3 separate regions of the Homo sapiens genome follow, and regions 2 and 3 are each linked to region 1. The links come from fine-mapping of genetic effects on gene expression. A gene starts in region 1. Each other region holds a variant in brackets. All regions are shown on one strand. Distances are from middle to middle. Region 1 holds the start of CFD (complement factor D). Region 2 overlaps MED16 (mediator complex subunit 16). Region 3 overlaps SHC2 (SHC adaptor protein 2).

What was found. PIP is the estimated chance that this variant, and not a neighbour inherited with it, causes the effect.
Region 2: its variant is fine-mapped to the expression of CFD in whole blood (INTERVAL, PIP above 0.99).
Region 3: its variant is fine-mapped to the expression of CFD in spleen (GTEx, PIP above 0.99).

Annotation. Positions count from the first base shown.
Region 1 is chr19:855,151-863,324 of GRCh38, forward strand. CFD (complement factor D) reads left to right here and starts at 4,514. Exons shown (of 5, transcript NM_001928.4): 1 at 4,514-4,594; 2 at 5,467-5,623; 3 at 5,711-5,855; 4 at 6,549-6,806; 5 at 7,942-8,174. The coding sequence starts at 4,540. The coding sequence ends at 8,088. It overlaps ELANE (elastase, neutrophil expressed), which reads left to right. Exons shown (of 5, transcript NM_001972.4): 4 at 414-644; 5 at 808-1,093. The coding sequence ends at 1,014.
Region 2 is chr19:875,808-883,976 of GRCh38, forward strand. MED16 (mediator complex subunit 16) reads right to left here. Exons shown (of 16, transcript NM_005481.3): 7 at 5,752-5,907; 8 at 4,130-4,341; 9 at 1,167-1,373. Among named protein-coding and RNA genes, the nearest start is that of MED16, 13 kb to the right of the region's middle. The variant G/A (reference allele first, on the strand shown) is at 4,274.
Region 3 is chr19:434,932-443,105 of GRCh38, forward strand. It overlaps SHC2 (SHC adaptor protein 2), which reads right to left. Exons shown (of 13, transcript NM_012435.3): 2 at 5,931-6,001; 3 at 4,039-4,099; 4 at 3,787-3,906; 5 at 1,699-1,752; 6 at 1,449-1,500; 7 at 1,234-1,360. Among named protein-coding and RNA genes, the nearest start is that of SHC2, 22 kb to the right of the region's middle. RefSeq lists an enhancer at 1,312-1,813. The variant C/T (reference allele first, on the strand shown) is at 4,462.

The DNA.
Region 1 (8,174 bases):
CAATTTTTTTTTATTATTTTTGTAGACATGGGGCTTTGCCACATTGCCCAGGCTGGTCTTGAATGCCTGGCCTCAAGTGATCCTCCTGCCTCGCCCTCCCAAAGTGCTGGGCTTACAAGCATGAGCCACCGCGCCCGGCTGTAGTTTTTTTGTTAACTGAGCACCTACTGCTTCCTGCACTCAAGCCACATCCAGGGACAACCTCCAACGCCCTGAGCCTTGGTGACGGCTCCCACTCTACAGATGGGGAAACCGAGGCTTGCCTTGGGGAGCAGAGTGTGGGGTGGGTATCCTGCCCTGCAGGATCCCAGAACCACAGTGGAACCTGAGATGGGGAAACTGAGGCCCGGAGAGGGGAGGGTCATCATCACTGCCCCGTGTGACGCGCTGACGATCTGTCCCCACCGCCACAGCTCAACGGGTCGGCCACCATCAACGCCAACGTGCAGGTGGCCCAGCTGCCGGCTCAGGGACGCCGCCTGGGCAACGGGGTGCAGTGCCTGGCCATGGGCTGGGGCCTTCTGGGCAGGAACCGTGGGATCGCCAGCGTCCTGCAGGAGCTCAACGTGACGGTGGTGACGTCCCTCTGCCGTCGCAGCAACGTCTGCACTCTCGTGAGGGGCCGGCAGGCCGGCGTCTGTTTCGTACGTGCCCTGGGTGTCCCTCTGCTCCCCACCCGCTCCCAGCCCGGACTGCAGCAACAGGCACCGTGGCTAGACCCTAGGAGGGACTTCCCAACCCTGACAGGCGGCGGGCAGGTGGGCAGGGCCTCGCAGTCCAGCTTCCCCACCTTGTCTGCCTCCACAGGGGGACTCCGGCAGCCCCTTGGTCTGCAACGGGCTAATCCACGGAATTGCCTCCTTCGTCCGGGGAGGCTGCGCCTCAGGGCTCTACCCCGATGCCTTTGCCCCGGTGGCACAGTTTGTAAACTGGATCGACTCTATCATCCAACGCTCCGAGGACAACCCCTGTCCCCACCCCCGGGACCCGGACCCGGCCAGCAGGACCCACTGAGAAGGGCTGCCCGGGTCACCTCAGCTGCCCACACCCACACTCTCCAGCATCTGGCACAATAAACATTCTCTGTTTTGTAGAATGTGTTTGATGCTCCTTGGCTGTGTGATTGGGTGTTGAAAATGGTCAGTAGGTCGGGCGTGGTGGCTCACACCTGTAATCCCAGCACTTTGGGAGGTTGAGGCAGGCGGATCACTTGAGCTCAGGAGTTCAAGACCAGCCTGGGCAACATGGCAAAACCCCCGCTCCATTAAAAAAAAATAAATAAATAAAATAAAATAAAATAAAATGGTCCAAGCCTGGCCCAGTGGCTTACGCCTGCAATCCCAGCACTTTGGGAGGCCGAGGCTGGCAGATCACCTGAGGTCGGGAGTTCAAGACTAGTCTGCCAACGTGGTGAAACCCCATCTCTACTATAAATACAAAAAAAATTAGCTTGGCGTCGTGGCGCGTGGGAGGCTGAGGCAGGAGAATCGCTTGAACCTGCGAGGCGAAGGCTGTAGTGAGCCGAGATTACGCCACTGCACTCCAGCCTGGGCAACACAGAGAGACTCCGTCTCAAAAAAAAAAAAAAAAAAAAAAAATACCGGTGCGGTGGCTCGTGCCTGTAATCCCAGCTCTTTGGGAGGCCCAGGCAGGCGGATCATCTGAGGTCTAAAGTTCGAGACCAGCCTGACCAACATGGAGAAACCCCATATCTACTAAAAATACAAAATTAGCCGGGCGTGGTGGTGCATGCCTGTAATCCCAGCTACTCGGGAAGCCTGAGGCAGGAGAATCACCTGAATTCTGGAAGGTGGAGGTTGCAGTGAGCCAAGATCGCTCCATTGCACTCCAGCCTGGGCAACAAGAGCGAAACTCCATCTCAAAAATAAATAAATAAATAAATAAATAAATAAATAAATAAATAAATAAATATAAATAATAATGATAATAATAATAATAAACAACAAACTAGAATCCAGAGTCTCTTGGGCATCTCTGGAGTAAGCCACCACCAGGGGGCAGCACAGCCAGGGCAATGGAGCAGAAGTGACTTCCCCACATTGTGTTTTTTTCTTTTTTGTTTTTAGATGGAGTCTCGCTCTGTCGCCCAGGCTGGAGTGCAGTGGCGCGATCTCGGCTCACTGCAAGCTCCGCCTCCCGGGTTCACGCCATTCTCCTGCCTCAGCCTCCCGAGTAGCTGGGACTACAGGCGCCCGCCACCACGCCCGGCTCATTTTTTGTATTTTTAGTAGAGACGGGGTTTCACCGTGTTAGCCAGGATGGTCTCGATCTCCTGAACTCGTGATCCGCCCGCCTTGACCTCCCAAAGTGCTGGGATTACAGGCGTAGCCACCACGCCCAGCCCTGTTGTTATATCATTTTCTATTCTCTGTGCGTATGAAATAATCCACAGGGGGCCAGGCATGGTGGCTCATGCCTGTAATCCCAGCACTTTGGGAGGCCGAGGTGGGCGGATCACCTGAGGTCAGAGGTTCGAGACCAGCCTGGCCAACATGGCAAAACCCTGTCTCTACTAAAAATACAAAAAGTTAGCCCAGTGTGGTTGCTCATGCGTGTAATCCCAGCTACTCGGGAAGCTGAGGCAGTAGAATCGCTTGAACCCGGGAGGTGGAGGTCGCAGTGAGCCGAGATTGTGCCACTGCACTCCAGCCTGGACGACAGAGCAAGACTCTGTCGCAAAAAAAAAAAAAAAGCAAGAAAGAAAGAAAAAAAGAAGGAAAGAGAAAGAAAGAAAGAAAAAGAAAGGGAAAGAAAGAGAAAAACAGAGAAAGGAAGGAAGGAAATGAGGCTAGGCGTGGTGGCTCACACCTGTAATCTCAGCACTTTGGGAGGCCGAGGCAGGCGGATCACGAGGTCGGGAGATCGAGACCATCCTGGCTAACACGGTGAAACCCATCTCTACTAAAAATACAAAAAATTATCCGGGCGTGGTGGCGGACGCCTGTAGTCCCAGCTACTCCGGAGGCTGAGGCAGGAGAATGGTGTGAACCCGGGAGGCGGAGCTTGCAGTGAGCTGAGATCGCGCCACTGCACTCCAGCCTGGGCGACAGAGCGAGACTCCGTCTCAAAAAAAAAAAAAAAAAGGAAAGAAAAGAAAGAAATGATCCATGGTGAAGAGAAAAGCCGGGGGAACCTCGTGTGCTGCTCCCCCTGGGGACAATGTCTGAGGTCCTCCCCACAAGGTATCCCCATCCTTCTGGTCCCCGCACCATGGATTAATGCAACGTGAATCCCGCTGGCCCCTGTGGGGCAGATGTGAAAAATGGAGCTACACCATGAGCAGGCCTGCAGTCCCAGCACTTCTGGAGGCTGAGGTGGGAGGATCACTTGAGCCCCGGAGGTCGAGGAGGCTGCAGTGAGCTATGATTGCACCGCTGCACTCGAGCCTGGATGAAAGAGCAAGACCCTGTCTGTAATAAAACAAAAACAACACACACAAATCCCCACCTCACAAAAGGCCCTATGGCCCAGATTCTGAGAAGTATTTTATTTTAATTTTTTTGTAGAGATGGGGTCTCGCCGTCTTCCCCAAGCTGGCCTTGAATTCCTGGGCTCAAGAGATGCTCCTATCTGGGTCTCTCAATGTGCCGGGATGGTAGGTGGGAGCCACTGTGCCCGGCCAGCCCTGACTCTGTTCATCAGAACCTGCCCTCAGTGAACAGTTTGGGAGGGGGCGTGTGATCCAGGCTCCACCAACCCAAGGCACCCTTGAGACTTGGCTGGAGTGAGGAAGAATTTTAGGAGGGGCCCACTGAGCCACTGGGTTGAGTGTGGGGTCCCTGGAAACACACCAGGGGAGGCTGGTGAGGAAAGAAGCCATCAGAGAAGAAAGGAGAAGCCAGAAGCAGACACTGGACATTGTTCAGGCACCTGGATCAAGCCACACCTGAAGGCGGACATCCCTGAACTTTCCATATAACTTTCATGATTCAGGCTCCACCCAGTTTGTCTGGGTTTTCCTGTCCCTTGTAGCCAGTCTTCCCAGCTGCCTCTGCCTTGGCCTTTCCAACTTTCTATTCGTCAGGGTGTCAAGCCCCAGAGGCCACAGGGACAGAGACAAAGGTGTCAAGTGACCTTCCTACCCCCAACAGACCTTCTCTCTAATATAGAGGAGGAAAAGAAGGGAGGGTAGCAGGACAAGAAAGTGGGTTGTTTACACGCTGTGGCCTCCAGCTAGGATTGTGAAACACCCTGGGGGACTCTGGGTGTGGTGAAGTTGGGGCCGGGGTGGGTGCAGCCCCCCTCTCTGCCTCCTGCCCATCTGAGGGACTGCCCCCCACCAGGGCCAGCAGGCTGTCAGGCTCACAGAGGCCCGAGGGTCTCCCAGCGACTTGTCGACTCTGGTGTGAGTCTGGCAGGAGGTAACCCAGTCCCGGGGAGGGCGGAGGCTGGGCGGGCGAGTTCCCCTTTCCCCAGCTGGGCCGCTGCCCACCCGGGGAGCGGCCCGCCCCCTCCACCCTCATAAAAGCACCCCCAGGGCCCTGCCTGGGTCAGTGTCTCAGCCACAGCGGCTTCACCATGCACAGCTGGGAGCGCCTGGCAGTTCTGGTCCTCCTAGGAGCGGCCGCCTGCGGTGAGGAGGCCTGGGCCTGGGGTGAGGGACAGGGCTGTGTAGGGGCGTGGTGCTCCCTTCCGTCACACGGACGGTCCTCCAGCCCCTCCAGGTGGGCAGGAAGGGGGTGTCTCTCCTCACTAATGGAAGGCTCTGAACGCTGAAAAATTCTAGAAAATTCAGATTGGAAATCGGAACTTTCTGGAGTCAGCTTTTCTTGCAGACAGAGTCTGAACGTCTGCGTGGAAAACTTCATCTGCGTGGCTGACTGGGCTGGCCCAGGCACTGGCTGGGTCAGCCCCATTTCTCTTATGTCCAACTGGAAGGCACTGCGCCCAGGGTAGGGCGCTGGGATCTGCCCCCGGTCCCCAGCCCACTGTGGGTTCTGTACTCTGGGGCATTCCCGCCCGAGGGTATCTGAGTTTGCAACGCTGAGGGGCCCCAAGACGGAAACGGGATTCTTTTTTTTCTTTCTTTTTTTTTTTGATAGGGAGTCTCGCTCTGTCGTCCAGGCTGGAGTGCAGTGGTGCGATCTCGGCTCACTGCAAACTCCGACTCCCGGGTTCAAGCGATTCTCCTGCCTCAGCCTTCCGAATAGCTGAGATTATAGGCCACGCCGACTAAATTTTGTATTTTTTTTTAAAGTAGAGACGGGGTTTCACCATATTGGCCAGGCTGGTCTTGAACTCCTGACCTCATGATCTGCACCCCCCCCTCCCCCCCCGCCCCCGCGCGGCTTCACAAAGTGCTGGGATTACAGGCGTGAGCCACCGCGCCCAGAGATGGGATTCTTGCGGGGAGCGGCCTGGGGGGTGAGAGCTGGGATCCCGTCAGGCAGCCTCGCCCGGGGGAGGAGTCCACCCCGCGGCCCTCACGCGCCCGCCCACCCACAGCGGCGCCGCCCCGTGGTCGGATCCTGGGCGGCAGAGAGGCCGAGGCGCACGCGCGGCCCTACATGGCGTCGGTGCAGCTGAACGGCGCGCACCTGTGCGGCGGCGTCCTGGTGGCGGAGCAGTGGGTGCTGAGCGCGGCGCACTGCCTGGAGGACGCGTGAGTGCCCGCGCCGCGCGGGGGAAGAGCCCGGGTGCGGTGGGGGGAGTCGGCTGGCACCGACCGCGGACTCCGTCCGGTCCCCAGGGCCGACGGGAAGGTGCAGGTTCTCCTGGGCGCGCACTCCCTGTCGCAGCCGGAGCCCTCCAAGCGCCTGTACGACGTGCTCCGCGCAGTGCCCCACCCGGACAGCCAGCCCGACACCATCGACCACGACCTCCTGCTGCTACAGGTCGGCCCCGTGTAGCGCAGTCCCTCCTGCGGCGCTGGGATCCCCGGCCCACCCTCACTCCACCCCGCCTACACCGCGCCCCGGGTCCAGCCTCGACCTCTCCTGCTGCATGGGGACCCCGCCCCACAACCCCCACACCCTCACCCCGGGTCTAGCCTCGACCTCTCTTGCTGCGCTCGGAGCCCCCCCACCCTCTGCACCCTCACCCCGGGTCCAGCCTCGAACTCTCCTGCTGCATGGGGACCCCGCCCCACAACCCCCACACCCTCACCCCGGGTCTAGCCTCGACCTCTCTTGCTGCGCTCGGAGCCCCCCCACCCCCTGCACCCTCACCCCGGGTCCAGCCTCGACCTCTCCTGCTGCATGGGGACCCCGCCCTACAACCCCCGCACCCTCACCCCGGGTCTAGCCTCGACCTCTGCGGCTGCACTGGGAGCCCCCCACCCCCCGCTCCCCCTGCATCCCCATCCCGGTTCCAGCCTCGACCTTTGCAGCTGCACTGGTGAGCCTCGCACCCACCCCATCCCCACCTGCACCCCCACCCAGGGTCTAGCCTAAATCTCTCCTGCTGCACTGAGACCCACGCCCCTGCCCTGATGCCCACCTCCCCCGTCCCGTCTCCCCGAGCCTAGCGGCATTCTCCCCAGCCTCGCACCCCCGCACCCCAACCCTGACGTCCGCCTCCACCCTCAGCTGTCGGAGAAGGCCACACTGGGCCCTGCTGTGCGCCCCCTGCCCTGGCAGCGCGTGGACCGCGACGTGGCACCGGGAACTCTCTGCGACGTGGCCGGCTGGGGCATAGTCAACCACGCGGGCCGCCGCCCGGACAGCCTGCAGCACGTGCTCTTGCCAGTGCTGGACCGCGCCACCTGCAACCGGCGCACGCACCACGACGGCGCCATCACCGAGCGCTTGATGTGCGCGGAGAGCAATCGCCGGGACAGCTGCAAGGTGAGCCTTCAGGCCTGGGAGGAGACGCGGGGCCTGCAGGCCCCGGGAAGGGCCTGCAGAGGGAGCGCGAAGCGGGGGGCAAGTAGGAACAGGGCCCAGGGAAGGGGCGGGGCGCGTAGGGGGCGGGAACTGGAAGATGGGCGGAGCATGAGGGTGGCCCGTGGGCGGGGCCTGTATGAGGGGGCGGGGCATGTGGGTAGGGTGGGGCCTTGGGGGCGAGGCCTGGAGAAGGTACGGGGCCTCTGGAGAGGGTGGGGCTGAAGAAGGGTCAGGGCGGGCAGAAAGGGCAGGAACGGGTGGGATGTGGAAGGACCTGTGGGTTAGGGTGGGAATAGGGGGCGGGGCTCGAGGAGGGGGCGGAGTCCAGTAATAGCGGGACTGCAAGGGGGCGAGGCCAGGAAGAGGGTTGGGGCATGAGGGGCAGGGCATGGAGGAAGGGGCGGTACCTGTGGGGAGGGTGGGGCTGGAGAAGGGTCAGGGCGGGCAAAAGGGCAGGTGGCAGAGAAAGGGTGGGAGGTATAGGGGGCGGGCACGTGGAGGAAGGGGCGGGGCATGGGGACGGGGCGGGGCAGGTGGAAGGGGCGGGAACCTCTGAAGGGGCAGGGCTGGTGCGGAGCGGGATCCCTGCTGTGGCAGGGAAGAGAAGGGGTCCTGAGCAGGGCAGAGGTTTAAGACCAGCCGAGGCTTGCATGGTAGCCGGGGCCAAGATTGGGTGGGGCTTAAGGGAGGGGCGTGGCCTGAGGTGAGTGGGGACTGAGCAGAGCAGGTGGCCACTGAGACGCGTTAGGGCAGAAGTGGGATCCACGGCAAGTCAAAGCTTGGAAGAGCAGGAATGAGGTGTGGGACCCCCATACTGGAAAGGGCTTGGAGCGGGGTGGGGTCGGGGGAACACGTGGTGAGGTTGAGGCCAGAGGGGGTGTGGCCAGGAGCTGGGGGCGGGCCTAGAGGGGCGTGGCTTGTGGTTGTGGCCTAGGCGATAGGCGTGGCGCGGGGCTATTGACTAGTGAAGACCAAATTAACACGGGAGGGATGAGCGAGCATTGTGGGGCGGGAGCGGCAGCCAGGTGAGGGGGTCTAACACGTGAGGCCGGGGTGGGCGCGGGCCGCCCCTCACGGCCCCGTCCTGTTCCGGCAGGGTGACTCCGGGGGCCCGCTGGTGTGCGGGGGCGTGCTCGAGGGCGTGGTCACCTCGGGCTCGCGCGTTTGCGGCAACCGCAAGAAGCCCGGGATCTACACCCGCGTGGCGAGCTATGCGGCCTGGATCGACAGCGTCCTGGCCTAGGGTGCCGGGGCCTGAAGGTCAGGGTCACCCAAGCAACAAAGTCCCGAGCAATGAAGTCATCCACTCCTGCATCTGGTTGGTCTTTA
Region 2 (8,169 bases), 21 kb after region 1:
ATGTCTGTGGTGCCTACGGGGAGACCCTGGTCTAGAGAGAATGAATGAATGAGCTGAAGCATTTTGGGAGGCTGAGGCTGGAGGATTCCTGGAGGCTGGGAGTTGGAGAGCCTGTGCAACGTAGGACACCCCATCTCTACAAAAAATAGAAACAACTAAAAACAAAAATGAAACGCTTGGCACACAGCGACGGCCCAAGGAGGGAGAGGGCGAGGTCTCGCCATCACTAGCGCTGTCACTGGCTACGGATCCCAGCCACGCTGGGGTTTAGCCTCGCAGCCCCCGCCTGGGTCTCACGCGTTTCTCGGCAGGCTGTGCCGTGAATGGGATTTTTTTTTTCCCATTTTATCTTCGTATTGGTTTCTGATGGCACAGAGGAAAACAAGTGAAGCTCAGAGGGCTGGTCCCACGTGCAGCTGCCGGCTGAGCTCGTTAGATCTGAGGTCCTTCGAGGACACTCTGGGATTGCAGGCACATAACCACACCACTGCAAGGGACCCTTCTGGCACGTGGGCCTCCGTATCCGCTCCCTCCTCTCCTTCCGACGGGCGGGTCTCTGTGTGTTCATCTTCTGACCGTGTTTGCTGAGGCCTCACACCACAGGGCCACCGGGTGTGCATCCTGGTACCCATCACATTCTGAGAGGATGGCTTAGAAAGATACCTCCAGACTGGGAACACTGGAGAGGGGAGCCGTCCAGGGGGGATCAGGCCTTACCTGTGGGGCTTAACGTGTTACAGAAGAAACTTCCCAGGTAAGGAAGGAAACTGCTTCTCTGAGGTGCAGCTTTCCTGGACGGGCCTCTGGGAGCACACCCCACACGCAGCCTCACCTGCCACAGGCTACCTGCCCCTCTTGCCCTCCGCCTGCCATAGAGCCCCCAACCTGCCGCAGGGAAACCCCTCCAGCTGCCACAACCCCCACATCTGCCGTGGGGACCTCTACAACTGCTGCAGAGACCTCCTCCACCCTCCAAGGGAACTCCCTCCCTGCTGCTGGCACTTTACTGACCACGGGGCCCCTGCCTGCCACAGGGACAGCCCCACCTGGCACGGGACCACCTGCCACGGGGCCCCCACCTGCCACGGGGCCCCACCTGCCACGGGGCCCCCACCTGCCACAGGGCCCCCACCTGCCACGGGGCCCCACCTGCCACGGGCCCCCACCTGCTGCAGGGCAGCGGTCTGGCGCGTGTACTCCTCGTGCAGCTTCTCCACCAGGCTCTGTACCATACTGGGCTGCACGTGCAGCAGGATGTCCCACCAGTCGTAGCCGGTCACCATGCAGTACTCCAGCAGGAAGAGCAGGTGCCGCAGCGCCAGCCCCACCTCCAGCGGGTGGCCCATGGAAGGTGAGAGGCGGAGCACGCTCAGCTGCCAGAGACAGAGCCCAAGGAGAGCCCGGTGAGATGGGGCTGCGCCCTCAGCCGGGAGAGGAATGGGGCCCTGGGGCTGCGGCACGTGTGTGGATCTGTGTGCGCGCACGCCCGTGTGTGGGCCTGTGTGCGCGCATGTGTCTGTAGCGTCTGTACCTTTCTGTCAGGGTCATGCACAATGCCTCTGGGAACAGGGAAGGAAACCTCCCTGAGCCCCGACTGCACTGGATGCCGAGCCAGGCTTACACTCGTCTGCTTTACCTGAGGAGTCTACCCCGTGAAAGGCGGTCCTCTCAACAGCTCCTAGTTACGAAGCTCCTAATACGTGCTGTGAGCCACCCCACTGACCTCGCTCAACAAGACGAACCCATCACACAGACAAGGCAGCGCAGGCAGGGGCTGGCGAGGGGCTTGCACCTGTGGTCCCTTCCCCCGGGGGCGCCTCCCTCTGGCACCCTCCCAGCCCCAGCCCCAGCCCCAGACCCACGTGCCCCAGCAGCTCGCCTTCCCCTGGTTGTCAATGCCCACCAGCCCCTGCCCCACGTGCCCCAGCAGCTCACCTTCCCCTGGTTGTCAATGCCCACCAGCCCCAGCCCCAGCCCCAGCCCCAGCCCCACGTGCCCCAGCAGCTCGCCTTCCCGTGGTTGTCAATGCCCACCAAGCCCAGCCCCACATGCCCCAGCAGCTCGCCTTCCCCTGGTTGTCAATGCCCACCAGCCCCAGCCCCACGTGCCCCAGCAGCTCACCTTCCCGTGGTTGTCAATGCCCACCAGCCCCAGCCCCAGCCCCAGCCCCACGTGCCCCAGCAGCTCACCTTTCCGTGGTTGTCAACGCCCACCAGCCCCAGCCCCAGCCCCACGTGCCCCAGCAGCTCGCCTTCCCCTGGCTGTCAATGCCCCCCAGCCCCAGCCCCAGCGCCACGTGCCCCAGCAACTCACCTTCCCCTGGTTGTCAATGCTCAGCAGCTCACCTTCCCGTGGTTGTCAATGCCCACCGAGCCCAGCCCCACGTGCCCCAGCAGCTCACCTTCCCCTGGTTGTCAATGCCCACCAGCCCCAGCCCCAGCCCCAGCCCCACGGGCCCCAGCAGCTCGCCTTCCCCTGGTTGTCAATGCCCACCAGCCCCAGCCCCACGTGCCCCAGCAGCTCACCTTCCCGTGGTTGTCAATGCCCACCAGCCCCAGCCCCAGCCCCAGCCCCACGTGCCCCAGCAGCTCACCTTTCCCTGGTTGTCAATGTCCACCAGCCCCAGCCCCGGCCCCGGCCCCGGCCCCACGTGCCCCAGCAGCTCACCTTCCCCTGGCTGTCAATGCCCACCAGCCCCAGCCCCACGTGCCCCAGCAGCTCACCTTCCCGTGGTTGTCAATGCCCACCAGCCCCAGCCCCAGCCCCACATGCCCCAGCAGCTCACCTTCCCGTGGTTGTCAACGCCCACCAGCCACAACCCCAGCCCCACGTGCCCCAGCAGCTCACCTTCCCCTGGTTGTCAATGCCCAACAGCCCCAACCCCACGTGCCCCAGCAGCTCGCCTTCCCCTGGTTGTCAATCCCCACCAGGGCCAGCCCCACGTGCCCCAGCAGCTCCCCTTCCCCTGGTTGTCAATGCCCACCAGCCCCAGCCCCACGTGCCCCAGCAGCTCCCCTTCCCCTGGTTGTCAATGCCCACCAGCCCCAGCCCCAGCCCCAGCCCCACGTGCCCCAGCAGCTCACCTTTCCCTGGTTGTCAATGTCCACCAGCCCCGGCCCCGGCCCCGGCCCCGGCCCCGGCCGCAGCTCCACGTGCCCCAGCAGCTCACCTTCCCCTGGCTATCAATGCCCACCAGCCCCAGCCCCAGCCCCACATGTCCCAGCAGCTCACCTTCCCCCGGTTGTCAATGCCCACCAGCCCCAGCCCCAGCCCCACGTGCCCCAGCAGCTCGCCTTCCCCTGGTTGTCAATACCCCCCAGCCCCAGCCCCAGCCCCAGCCCCACGTGCCCCAGCAGCTCGCCTTCCCCTGGTTGTCAATGCCCAGCAGCTCACCTTCCCATGGTTGTCAATGCCCACCAAGCCGAGCCCCACATGCCCCAGCAGCTCGCCTTCCTCTGGTTGTCAATGCCCAGCAGCTCACCTTCCCATGGTTGTCAATGCCCACCAAGCCCAGCCCCACGTGCCCCAGCAGCTCACCTTCCCCTGGTTGTCAATGCCCACCAGCCCCAGCCGCACATGCCCCAGCAGCTCACCTTTCCCTGGTTGTCAATGCCCACCAACCCCAGCCCCACGTGCCCCAGCAGCTCGCCTTCCCCTGGTTGTCAATGCCCACCAGCCCCAGCCCCACGTGCCCCAGCAGCTCGCCTTTCCCTGGTTGTCAATGCCTACCAGGGCCACGCCCCAGCAGCTCGCCTTCCCCTGGTTGTCAATGCCCAGCAGCTCACCTTCCCGTGGTTGTCAATGCCCCCCAAGCCCAGCCCCACGTGCCCCAGCAGCTCACGTTCCCCTGGTTGTCAATGCCCACCAGCCCCAGCCCCACGTGCCCCAGCAGCTCGCCTTCCCCTGGTTGTCAATGCCCAGCAGCTCGCCTTCCCCTGGTTGTCAATGCCCACCAGCCCCAGCCCCACGTGCCCCAGCAGCTCGCCTTCCCCTGGCTGTCAATCCCCACCAGGGCCAGCCCCACGTGCCCCAGCAGCTCACCTTCCCCTGGTTGTCAATGCCCAGCAGCTCGCCTTCCCCTGGTTGTCAATGCCCACCAGCCCCGGCCCCACGTGCCCCAGCAGCTCACCTTCCCGTGGCTGTCAATCCCCACCAGGGCCAGTGACGTCCACGATAGCTGCATAGCCTTTAAGTGGACGGCGGGGCCCGCGGTGCGGGGGCGCTTCATGGCCGGCTCATCCACAGGCCTCGGGGCCGCGGAGCTGTAGAAGAC[G/A]GCCATGGTCTGCAGTGAGAGCCGGTGCACGATGTGGACGCTGCCGTCGTGGAAGGCCAGGGCCAGCCCTGTGGGGCACAGGCACTGCTTAGACATGGGCAGGGCCCAGGACACGCCCGCCGGGGGAGGGGCCTCCTGCTCTGCAGGGTGTGGAGAGCCGGGGCTGCCCATCCAGGGGGTCAGCCCCCGCCAATCGGCATCCAGCGCCCGTGCCCCCAGCCACTCTTTCTTTAGTTACACAGTCCCTGAGCACCAGGGGAGCAGGAGCCAGCAGCCTTGGCCACACTGCTCCCAGCCCCTCCCCGCCCCTCCCAGCTGGGCCCATGTCCTGGCTGACACGCCCCTCAAGGAGCGCAGGGGAGGGGGGCACTACAGGTGGGGGACCAAGGGTTGGGGCTCCTGGCGTCCCAAAGAGAGGCATCTTAGGGTGGTGGGCTGGGGCTGTCACTCACACTGGGGTCTGCCATTGTACGAGGGCCGGGGGGAGGTGGGGTCCAGAGCCCAAAGCTCATGGAAAAGAGAATATGAAAGGAGTCCCTGCAGTAGAGAGGCTGCAAAGCCGGGCGCGGTGGCTCACGCCTGTAATCCTAGCACTTTGGGAGGCTGAGGCGGGCAGATTGCCTGAGCTCAGGGGTTCGAGACCAGCCTGGGCAACACCGGTGAAACCCCGTCTCTACTAAAATACAAAAAATTAGCCGGGCGTGGCAGCACGCGCCTGTAGTCCCAGCTACTCGGGAGGCTGAGGCAGGAAGGAGAATCGCTTGAACCCAGGAGGCGGAGGTTGCAGTGAGCCGAGATCACACCACTGCACTCCAGCCTGGGCAACAGAATGAGACTCCAACTCAAAAAAAAAAAGAAAAAAAAAAATAGAGCCTGGAAAATGGAGCATAAACCAAGGGTTTTGGAGCAGGGAACTGCATCCCCTCAACCTCTCTGCAGGCTCTGAGGAACAGCCCTGAGCCCCGAGCGGGTTTTGATAAATGCTCTTTCCAGGGAACCAGGGAAGAACGGGAGCTGGGGGAAGAAAGGGCCTGAGCTAGGGCCGACTTGTCCACATTTTACAGCTGAGCAAATAGGGTAGGCACTGAAGAGTGTGCAGACTCACTCATGGGCACGGATGCCACGGTTTGAGCTCAGGACCACATTATGGCTGCTGCAGCACAGAGAGGACACATGCCGCCTACCCAGGAAGGAGTTCCACCAAGTTCCCCAGGCTCCCTTGTTGATTTGCAATGACTCTTTACATATTAAAGAACACTGGATCTGTCTGCCAGCCTCACAGATCCCGAAAGATGAGATCTGCCTCCTAATTGGGAACCCATCAGAACCCAGAAGGCTGAGCTCCTACAGCCCCATGGCCTGTGCTCAGAGCCCACGTCCTCTGGTGTGAGCTCCCACGACCCCGTGGCCTGTGCTCAGGGCCCAACTCCCCTGGTGTGAACTGAGGCCCCGCGTGGCTGCCGCTGGCTCCACCGTACCGAGGCCAGGGTAGAACTGTGTGTCGCTGGCCACCTTGAGGTCGGTGTTGGTGAGCGAGATGGGCAGCTTGGGCAGCGCCACGGCCGACACACGGTCCAGATCGTTGGTGGCCGATAGGATCCGCCATTTGAGAATTGTGGGCTGTTTGTCGCCAACTGAAAAATCAGGGGCAGGAAAACAGGAAGGCAATGGAGTAAAGACAGGCTGAGACAGCCGCAGGAGTCCAGCATGGCCTGGTGTGCAACCTGCCCAGGGCCCTTCCCAGGTCTCATGCCGCCCTGCTCCCATGCCCAGAAGACCAGGCCCGGCCAATCCGAGCGCTTCGTGCCTCGGCCACTCATTGGTTCCAGGATGGGCACGTGACCCAAGGTGGGCCCTGGGATTTCATGGAAACCTGTGGGCCGGCACCATCTCACCCCCGATGGGGCAGACAGTGGGGAGACGGCGCCACCTCAGACCTGCAGCCATGCAAACCCTAACACTCGCTCGGCCTTAGCCAGCTCAGCCGGGATTCCCATCCCTCCTCATCTACAATTCCAATAAAGCCATGCGGGATGGTCGCACCCACAGATCCGCTGCCTGACAGCCCCTGCGTGAAGACGCAGCTCCTCCCAACAGGGCAGAGACTTCTGGGAATCTCAGGCCAAGCCTTAGCAAATGTGACATGGCCGGGCACAGCAGCTCACATCTGCCACCCCAAGACTTTGGGAAGCCAACGCCAGAGGATGGCTTGAGTCCAGGAGTTCAAGACCAGCCTGGACAACACAGCAAGACCCCATTCTCTACAAAAAAAACACAGTAAACATTAGCTGTGTGTGGTGGTGATGCACGCCTGCACACGCCTGTAGTCCCAGCTACTCAGGAGGCTGAGGTAGGATTGCTCGAGCCCAGGAAGATGAGGCTGCAGTGAGCCAAGATCACGCCACTGCACTCCAGCCTGGGCAACACAGCAAGAGCCTAGCTCAAAAACAAAAAACAAAAACAGTGGCCCAGAGAGCACGTGTGGGGGGTCCTGCTGTGGCTGCATGTGGGACACGGAGGGCAGCTGGAGCCGGCCTGCTGGAGCATGTGCGGCCAGTGGACAGGCCACGCCACCTCGGCTGCTAACCGCAGACACGTGGGAACCAGGAGAGCGCAGCTGAGGCAGCCACAGAAACAGAAACAGTGCAGGGCTGCTGGCCTGAGCTGCTCAGTTTGGGGCTGGCTTGTTACTCGGCTGAAGCTGACTACCACGCAGCTGCTCTGTGCCACCCGCATCATGAGGTCTCTGCCCCGGACGGGCCATCACGGTCACAGAGCCTTGACCTCCTGCAAACCCGTATAGGGGTCCTGTGAGCAGCATTCCCTGGGGGGAAACAGGCCCAGAGAGTGGCTGAGACGCCCAGAGGGCACACAGTGGTCAGGGGTGGCTGGCCCTCATGGAATTGAGCCTCTCATAGGAAAGACAGGAAACTCAACGCCCCAGCGCCGGGGGAGGCAGCTGCCATGACGACCACACCCCCAGCTAGTGGCCAGGGTACCCTCACAGCACGATTTACATCCCCTCCTCCATCCAACTGACGGCTGCGGTCAGCATTCCTAAATGAGGGGGGACTTGAGGCAGGGAGAAGCTAAGCTGCTAAGTGGGGATGTGGGGCAGTGGGTGAAGAGCTGGGCATGGTAGGAACCGAAGCCTGGCATGGTGGGCACGTGGGGCGGTGCGTGAAGAGCTGGGCATGGCGGGGACCGAAGCCTGGCATGGTGGGCACGTGGGGCGGTGGGTGAAGAGCTGGGCATGGCGGGGACCGAAGCCTGGCACGGTGGGCACGTGGGGTGGTGGGTGAAGAGCTGGGCATGGCGGGGACCGAAGCCTGGCACGGTGGGCACGTGGGGCGGTGCGTGAAGAGCTGGGCATGGCGGGGACCAAAGCCTGGCATGGTGGGCACGTGGGGCGGTAGGGGGAGAGATGGGGGAGAGATGGGTGCGGTGGGGACTGTCCCAGTGACCCCCAGCTGCCAGGGATGTGAGACCTGAGAAAGGCTGTGGCATGTGTGTGAGACGTGGCTCTCGGGCGGGTAACAGCTGGGCCAGCAGGTGAGGACGGCTGCAGGAGACGAGGAGGAGTGTCGGAGCCCAGGACTGCCCAGTGGCTTGGCTGTGGGCAGATGGTAGACACAGACGTGCCCAGCGGGGGCACCGGGCAGTGAAGGTGCAGGTCTGTGCAGCCACACGGGGTGGCGCCAGGTGCTGCTGCAGGAGCCAGCGCAGCCCAAACTGCCTGGTGACTCACCACGAGGCCCAGGGGAAGGAATGAGGCCCAACAAGGCCCTGGGGACCGGGCGAAGGAACGAGCCCTGGGAGAAGGAATGGCAGCAGCCCTCTTCACCTGCCTGGTGACTCACTACAAGCCCTGGGGGAAGGAATGGCAGTGGCCCTCT
Region 3 (8,174 bases), 420 kb before region 1:
AGCTTCTGGGGGAGCAGGAAATATCTGAGTTCGAATCCCAGCCCCCCACCTGTCACTGAGGGTTCCTACCGGGAAACGCTTCTAGAGCCAGTGACCAGGCCCACTACTTCCTCATCTATAAAATGGAATGTTGCACACATTTCCGAGCTGTAGCACAAAAGGCAGGTCGTTGGCAAACCCAGTCTCCACTCCTTTCTGCCCACCTCCGGCCCCGCCCGGCAGCAGAGGGCATGAGCCAAGTTTATACCCAGAACCAGGACATCACCGGTCAGGGTGGCAACTCTCTGGGATCAAAGCGCCCCCGCCCTCTGGCCCCGATGGCACTGGCAGGAATTGATCCTGCAGGTGCTCCTCAGCAAGCACGGCCCCGAGAGCCAGAGGGGTGCACCCCACCTGGCCCACAGTCGCTGCTGGGATAAATTATGAAGCAGCCTACGGAAGGCAGAGGCAGCTCTGGAGGCAGGCGAGGAGCCCGTCTCAGCTTCGGAGCGTGCTGAGCAACGTGCATCAAGCACGCTGTCCCCGTGCACAAAGGGGTGAGTGTGAGCAGGCGTGCGATGCCGCCTCCCTCGTGACCAGCAGGCTGGGAGCTCATGCACCTGCACCTGCCCTCCCACCATTGGAGGAAGCTGACTTTCTAATGATGAATAGAGACTTAAATAGCTCCTTCTCCAAGGCCAGCTGGCAAACCCCAGCCCAGGGCCAAATCCAGCTCACCGCCTAGATCTGTGTGGCCCACGAGCTAAGAATGGGCTTTCAATCTTTAAATTATCAAAGTTAAGTGTTTGAGAAAACATCTAGAGAATCATATTTTGCAACACGTGGCATTCACACTTCAATGTCTATAAAAAACGTGTTACCAGCACACAGACACGTCCCCCCCTTTACACATGTTCTGCGGTGAGACGGAGGCCGTTTTCTGCCCATTGCGGGAGCCGGCCGCGCGTCTGGAGGAGGGATATTGGTTGTAGCAGCAGGGCTGACAGCCTCAGGCACACCGGGGAGTCAGCTTGCTTAGTCCTCCCCAATCCTGGGGGGCAGGCGGGGATGCGTTTACTCGGGTGTTAACAGCCGAGGAAACAGGATCCTCTGGCTGAGCCATATTCTCACGGGACAGGGAGGGAGGGACAAGGGCAGGACGGAGGCTGAGGCCTGCAGGAGGTGGAGCAGGCTCTGCACCTGGGCAGGTCACTGGGGGTGTCCCCAGGGCACGGGGGAGGCAGCTCTGGTTACCTTTCTGGGGGCAGCGCCACCTTGGGCGGGCTGTGCAGGTACTGCTTGAAGCGCAGCTCGAAAGCTTGGCCCACGGTGCTGATGATGCTCTGTGCCAGGCCCTCACAGCACTCCAGGATGTGGCAGGCTGCGGGCACGTTGGTCATGCAGCCTCCGAGCCACACGGCCGTGCCCCCCAGCCACAGGACCCCCACCGGCCTCCCCGGGGGCCTCACCTCTCTGGTTGATGGGGTCCTTGGCGACGTAGGCCACGTAATCCGTCATGTCCTGGGGGCGGGGAGGGGCCAGCTGGACCTGCCTGGGCCCCCCACCGGGATTCCCAGCTGCCCACCCCAGCAATGCAGAGAGATGGGGCAGTGGATGTGGGCACAGGGTACGTTAGGCGGGCTCTGGGGAAGGATGAGAGGGTCTCGCGGCCGGAGGGGGGCGGCAGGGCTGCAGGTCCACCCCCATCCCTGGCCTCACCGTGTCTCCGCCTGACGCGAAGGAGATGGACGGCATGTGGTGGTTGGCGATGACCTGTGGCGGCAGGAGGCACACGCGGTCATGGGGGCCCCGCTTCGAGGGCAGGGGGCCCGGCAGATGGACCAGGACCACAGCGAAGAGTGGGGCAGGGGCAGGGATGTGGGGATGGAGACGTCTCCTGGACAGGCACCCACTGCAGCCGGGTCCTGGGTCAGCCTGGACGACCGAGGCTGGGATGTGGAGTCCCCAGCAAGGAAGGGACTAGGGCCCTAAGGGATGTGTGGGGTCCGCAGGAGGTCACACGGGAATGTGTGTGAGAGGACAAACCTCCCCCACTGTAACACTTCACACATGTACCTGCCCAGACGCTCACACACACACACCCCAAGCCCCACACACATGCACACACACACACACACCCGAAGCAGCCACGGGAGGGACGGCCCCACACTCCTGACTCCCTTGTCCACGTGCAAGGGCACCTGTGAGTGCATTTGCATGCTTATCTGCATGCTCATTTGTATGCTTGTTTGCCTACTGATCTGCATGCTCGTTTGCATGCTCATCTACTTGCTCGTTTGCGTGGTCATCTGCGTGCTCGTTTGCGAGCTCATCTGCGTGCTCGTTTGCGTGCTCGTCTGCGTGCTCGTCTGTGTGCTCATCTGCGTGCTCGTCTGTGTGCTCATCTGCATGCTCATCTGCGTGCTTGTTTGCATGCTCATCTGTGTGCTTGTTTGTGTGCTCGTCTGCGTGCTTGTTTGCATGCTCATTTGCATGGTCCTGCTTCATTTGCTTCCCGTCACTCAAATCCCTCTAGGCCCCAGTAAGCCCCCGATACCAGCCACGTCCTGAGTCCTCCCTACAGAACATCCACTTCTCAGCCCCCATAGGGACCCTCGAGGCTCTCCCCTTGCCAACCCCGGCCCAGCCAGGAGGGTCTGCTTGGAGCCTCAGTATCCTGTCCATATAGTGGTCAGGGGTCCATGCCTCGCAGGGTGGGGGCAGAGATGGAAATTGCGTGGAAATGGCCCTCAGTCACCCCCCCGCCAGCTCCATCCTTCTCTAGCCTCCTCCCTGGAGCCCCAGCTGCCCCTCACCGCCACCTGCTGCCACCACACCAGCTCAGAGATGCTGTCTCACCCCAAACTCCTCACGATGATCCATGCTAACTTCTCCGACAAGGCGATGCCTCCTCTTTCAGCCACACCTGAGATTCCCCTCCTCACCACCTCCCAGAGCCCTCCAGGAAGTCTCTTCTAGCACCCAGAGCCCAGCACATGCTCAGGACACCCCTCACCTGGCCTCACAATGCTTCCTAAAATCTGTTATTTCCTCTATTTCTGCAATTATAGTTTTTTGTTTTTTGGTTTTTTGAGACAGAGTCTCACTCTGTTGCCCAGGCTGGAGTGCAGTAGTGCAATCTTGGCTCACTGCAACCTCCACTCCCAGGTTCAAGCGATTCTCCTGCCTCAGCCTCCCAAGTAGCTGGGATTACAGGCGCCCACCACCACACCCGGCTAATCTTTGTATTTTTTGTAGAGTCAGCCATGTTGGCCAGGCTGGTCTCGAACTCCTGACCTCAAGTGATCTGCCCACCCCTCAGCCTCCCAAAGTGCTGGGGTTACAGGCGTGAGCCACTGAGCCCGGCCTCACAGTGCTGGGGTTACAGGCGTGAGCAACCAAGCCCGAGCCTGGTCTGCAATTATACTTTTGTTGTTTGTTTCCACTTGAGGACTGATAGCCAGGGTTTATCCCCGCCCCTCCCCAGGCACTGTGGATGTTGGGACGGACCACTCTCTGGGGTGGGGCGTCCTGGCCCCTGCAGGGTGCTGAGCAGCGTCCCTGCCCCCACCCACTCCATGCCAGGAGCGCCCCTGTATCAGGACGGCTCGCCCAGGTGGGAGCCCCTGAGCTGAGCCCCGTGAGGGCAGTGGCTGCACCCCCAGCTCCTGCTCAGCGGGGCCTCGGCTCGTCTTTCTGGATAAACGCCACCTGCTGCCCGCCCCCAGCACCCCACCTGGCTTTGCCTCCTAGGACTCCTGGCCCCTCTGGGGGTCTGGGGACGCCAGGCGAAGAGGGCAGACCCACCTGGCGCGTGGCAGGCACGGAGAGGCTGAGGCCATCAGTGGAGATGTGGATGGAGATGCTCATGCCGGCAAAGCGAAGGTTGCTCTTGCCCAGGACGGACGCCAGGGCCTTGTTGGGGGCCTGAGTTGGGGGCGGAGCACAGCGAGGGCGGCTGTGGGTGGGGGCTGTCGAGGGGCTCCCAGGATGGCCGCAGCGTCCCCACAGCCCCCGACTGCCCCACCAGCCCCACGAGAGACCACAAGCCTCACTCACCTTTTTCTTCCAGGATCCCCGGACGCCAGGCACGGCCTCATGGAGCCGGTTGATGGCTTCCCTGGGGTTGGGAGGAGGGGGCTTAGAGAGTGTGGTGGGGGTGGCCATGGAGGGAGCTGGGGAGGAAGGGGTCAGAGAGGGCGGGGGTCTGGGGAGGGGGCAGGAGCTCAGAGAAGGGCGAGAGAGAGGGGAGAGGAAGGCAGAGAGGGAGGGGTGGGAGAGGATCAGGGGGCCTAAAGTGGGCAGGGAGGGGGCTGGGGAACCTGGGGGAGGAGTGCCCCACAGGACAGGTGCAGCTTGGGCACCAGCCCACTCCACGTGCGTCCTTGCATCCGGCAGAGGCCCGGCCCCCAGCTCTGGCCCCTCTACCACCCTCTTTCCCAGGGACCAGTGTGTCCCTGGCCTCGGCCCACAAGGAAGGCT[C/T]GGCATCAGATGTGGGGGTTGGAGCAGCGAGCAGGAGGCCCTGAGCCTGACGCGGGGTCCGTGTCGAGATCCTGTCTGCAGCCTGAGTGGTGGCAGGAGCTGACCCCAAACAAGAGCGCCTCAGACCACTGGTCCCCAGGAGAGGTTAGAAGTCTACAGGGTCCTGAAGGGGCCCCGGAAATGTCGGCGTCACGTGGAGAAACCAGATCCCCCACCCAGGGCATGTGGGAATTTTCACAGCACGGCCACTGTGGAAAACAGCCTGGGGGCTCCTCAAAAGGTTAAAAATTGGCCAGATGCAGCGGCTCCTGCCTGTCATCCTAGCACTGTGGGCCTGACACAAACAAATGCATGCAGGCGCGGCGGCCCCCACCTGTCATCCCAACACTTGGGGAGGCTGAGACGGGCGGATCACCTGAGGTCAGGGGTTCGAGACCGGTCTGACCAACATGGAGAAACCCCGTCTCTACTAAAAACATAAAAACTAGCTGGGTGTGGTGGTGGGCGCCTGTAGTCCCAGCTACTGGGGAGGCTGAGGCAAGAGAAATGCTTGAACCCAGGAGACAGAGGTTGCAGTGAGCCGACACGGTGTCACTGCACTCCAGCCTGGGCAACAGAGTGAGACTCCATCTCAAAAAAAAAAAAAAAAAAGGAGCAAGGCTCTGACCCAGGCCACAGCGCGGACACACCTCGGGAACGCCATGCTCAGTGAGAGACGCCAGACACACGAGGCCACGCAGCGTGTGATCCCATTGCTATGAAATGTCCAGGACAGGCCGATCCACAGAGACAGGGAGGGGATGCGTGGGTGCCGGGGCTGGGGAGGGGACGGGGAGTGGCTGTGATGGGGACGGGGTGTTTTGATGGGGTAATGAGAATGTTCGGAACTAGACAGTGGTGATCGTGTGACTCTGTGAAGAGCCTAAAGTCTCAAACTGTACATTATATCTCACATACGCACGTGTAAACTGTCTCACATGGTTTTTTTAAGTCTATACGAATGGAATCAACCAGTTTTCACAGAAAAAAAGGGTGTCGCTCTCTTCCCTGCTTAAGCCCTGGCCATATCCACAGCCCCTGTGATTGCTTTCCAGACACCGCATAGCATCCTGAGGTCACCGTGTGGAAAACAGAGCAGGGACACGGAGACGCCACTGGGCCCCGGTCCCAGAGGGAACCCGCCAGGCCCTGCACCCCACGCCGTGCGGGGACTTGCCCAGCACCCTGTGAGCGACCGGCGTGTTCTTTCCATCTTAGAGGATCGAGGTCTGCAGGGCACGGTGACCGACACCTGGCGTGGGGACAGGGCGGAGACGTGGCGTGAAGTGGGAGGGAGGTGGGGGGCACCGAGGCTGCGTCCTGGGACCCCAGCGCGGCTGTCGGAGAGCCCATCGCTGCCGCCCTCCAGTGCTGCCGCCCTCCAGTGCGTCACTCAGCCCTACGCGGCCAGGGCAGGGTTGGAGGCTCACCTGGTCACCTGCGTGCGCGTGTTAAAGTCCAGGGAGCGCATAGAGCGGAGAACCTCGATGCAGCCCATGTACTGAGGGGAGAGAACAGGTGTCAGATGCCATCGGAACCCCCGCAGTGGAGCCACGTCCCTTTTCCCAGCAGCCCTTCGCCGCCTCCACCACCCCTGGGGTCGAGCCCTTTCCTCTGTCCCTGGTGGCTCTGGGGCCGTCGTGCCTCCCCCACCTCAAGGCCCAGCCTTGACACTGTCCTGCGAGCCGCCCCCTCTGACTCCAGGCATGTTTTTCTGTGTTGCTGTTTCTCAGGAGCCTGGTGGTTCCCCCAGACGCTCTATGCTGCTTGTTCATTTAACCGTCTTGCCCTCGTCGGTCTCTTTCTGTTCCACCAGCACCGAAGCCGAGGAGCGTGGGGATGGTGCGATCCTGAGCACTTCCCTATCTCCAGCGCCCAGTTCAGGGTCTGGCAAACAGTGGGGCAGACGTCCAGGGCAGCCACAGATGCACACACTGCTGGCCTCGCCCTCCACAGGAAGTTTGCGGGCTTCTGGCCCAGACAGCTGTTTCCATGAAAAGGGAATTCACCATCTCAATGACTGATAATACTGAGGGACGAGAGGGGCAGAGGCGTCCCACCGAGTCCCTGACCTGCTTCAGTGCCGTAAAGGGTGGGGGAACAGGGCCAGGAGGCGAAGGCCACAGCGTCCTTCCAACGTTGGCCCTTGCTGGAGGGAGGGTAAGGGGCACAGCCCACGTCATCTCTATGAAATGTCCTACAGAGGCAGCAAGAGCATGTGTGGGTGCCAGGAGCCGGGGAATGAAGGCTGACACGAACAGGTTTCCTACTGGGGTCATGAGAAATTCTGGAATTAGACAGAAGGGGTGGTGGCACGATATTATGAATGTACGAAATGCTACTGAACTGTGAAAAATGCAACATGCAAAATGATGAATAACGTTATGTGAAGTCCACCTCAGTTTCTTTAAATGATCAACACGCAAACACTTTGACCCTGCAGCTCCATTTTTAGGACTTTACCCCACAGATACATCAGCCTGAGGGCTTCTGAGGTGTGTACAGGTCACTGTGTGGGCCGGCCCAGGCTCTGCCCCTCTCCACGGCTCCATGTACCTGGAGCAGGGAGAGCAAGGAGCAGAGACAGATGTGAGAATGCAGGCAGGAAGCAGAGGCCACAGGACCTGGGCTGTGATGACGGGCAGGGGCTCATCCTGGGCCAGCTGGGGAGCCAGGGAGCACTTAAGCAGGGCATGGACTAAGCAGCCTCACCTCCTGTTGAATGGATGCATGATGGGTGGATGGACTGACAGAAAGATGGCAGGTGGATGGATGAATGAAAGAATGGATGGAAGATGAATAGATGGGTGGGTGAGTGGGTGAACGGATGGATGATGGGTGAGTGGATGATGGATGGATGGGTAGATGGATGGACAGGCAGATGGACAATGAATGGATGGGTGGGTGGATGGATGGAGGGTGGAAGGATGGATGGATGGGTGGGTGGGTAGATGAGTAGATGAGTGGATGGGTGGATGGATGGATGGACAGATGGATGGATGGGCGGGTGGATGGATGGATGGATGAATGGGTGGGTGGATGGGTGGGTGGATGGGTGGATGGATGGATGGACGGATGGATGGATGGATGGGTGGGTGGATGGATGGGTGGGTGGGTGGATGGGTGGGTGGGTGGACGGATGGCTGGATGGATGGGTGGGTGGATGGACGGGTGGGTGGGTGGGTGGATGAGTGAATGGGTGGATGGATGGATGGGTGGATGGATGGGTGGGTGGATGAGTGGATGGGTGGATGGGTGGGTGGACGGGTGGACGGATGGCTGGATGGATGGGTGGGTGGATGGACGGGTGGGTGGGTGGGTGGATGAGTGGATGGGTGGATGGATGGATGGATGGGTGGATGGATGGGTGGGTGGATGAGTGGATGGGTGGATGGGTGGGTGGATGGGTGGACGGGTGGACGGATGGATGGGTGGGTGGATAGATGAGTGGATGGGTGGGTGGATGAATGGATGGATGGACGGGTGGGTGGATGGGTGGATGGATGGGTGGGTGAATGGATGGATGGACGGGTGGGTGGATGGGTGGATGGATGGATGCATGGGTGGGTGGATGGATGGATGAATGGGTGGGTGGGTGGATGAATGGATGGATGGACGGGTGGGTGGATGAGTGGATGGGTGGGTGGATGGATGGAGGGTGGATGGATGGACAG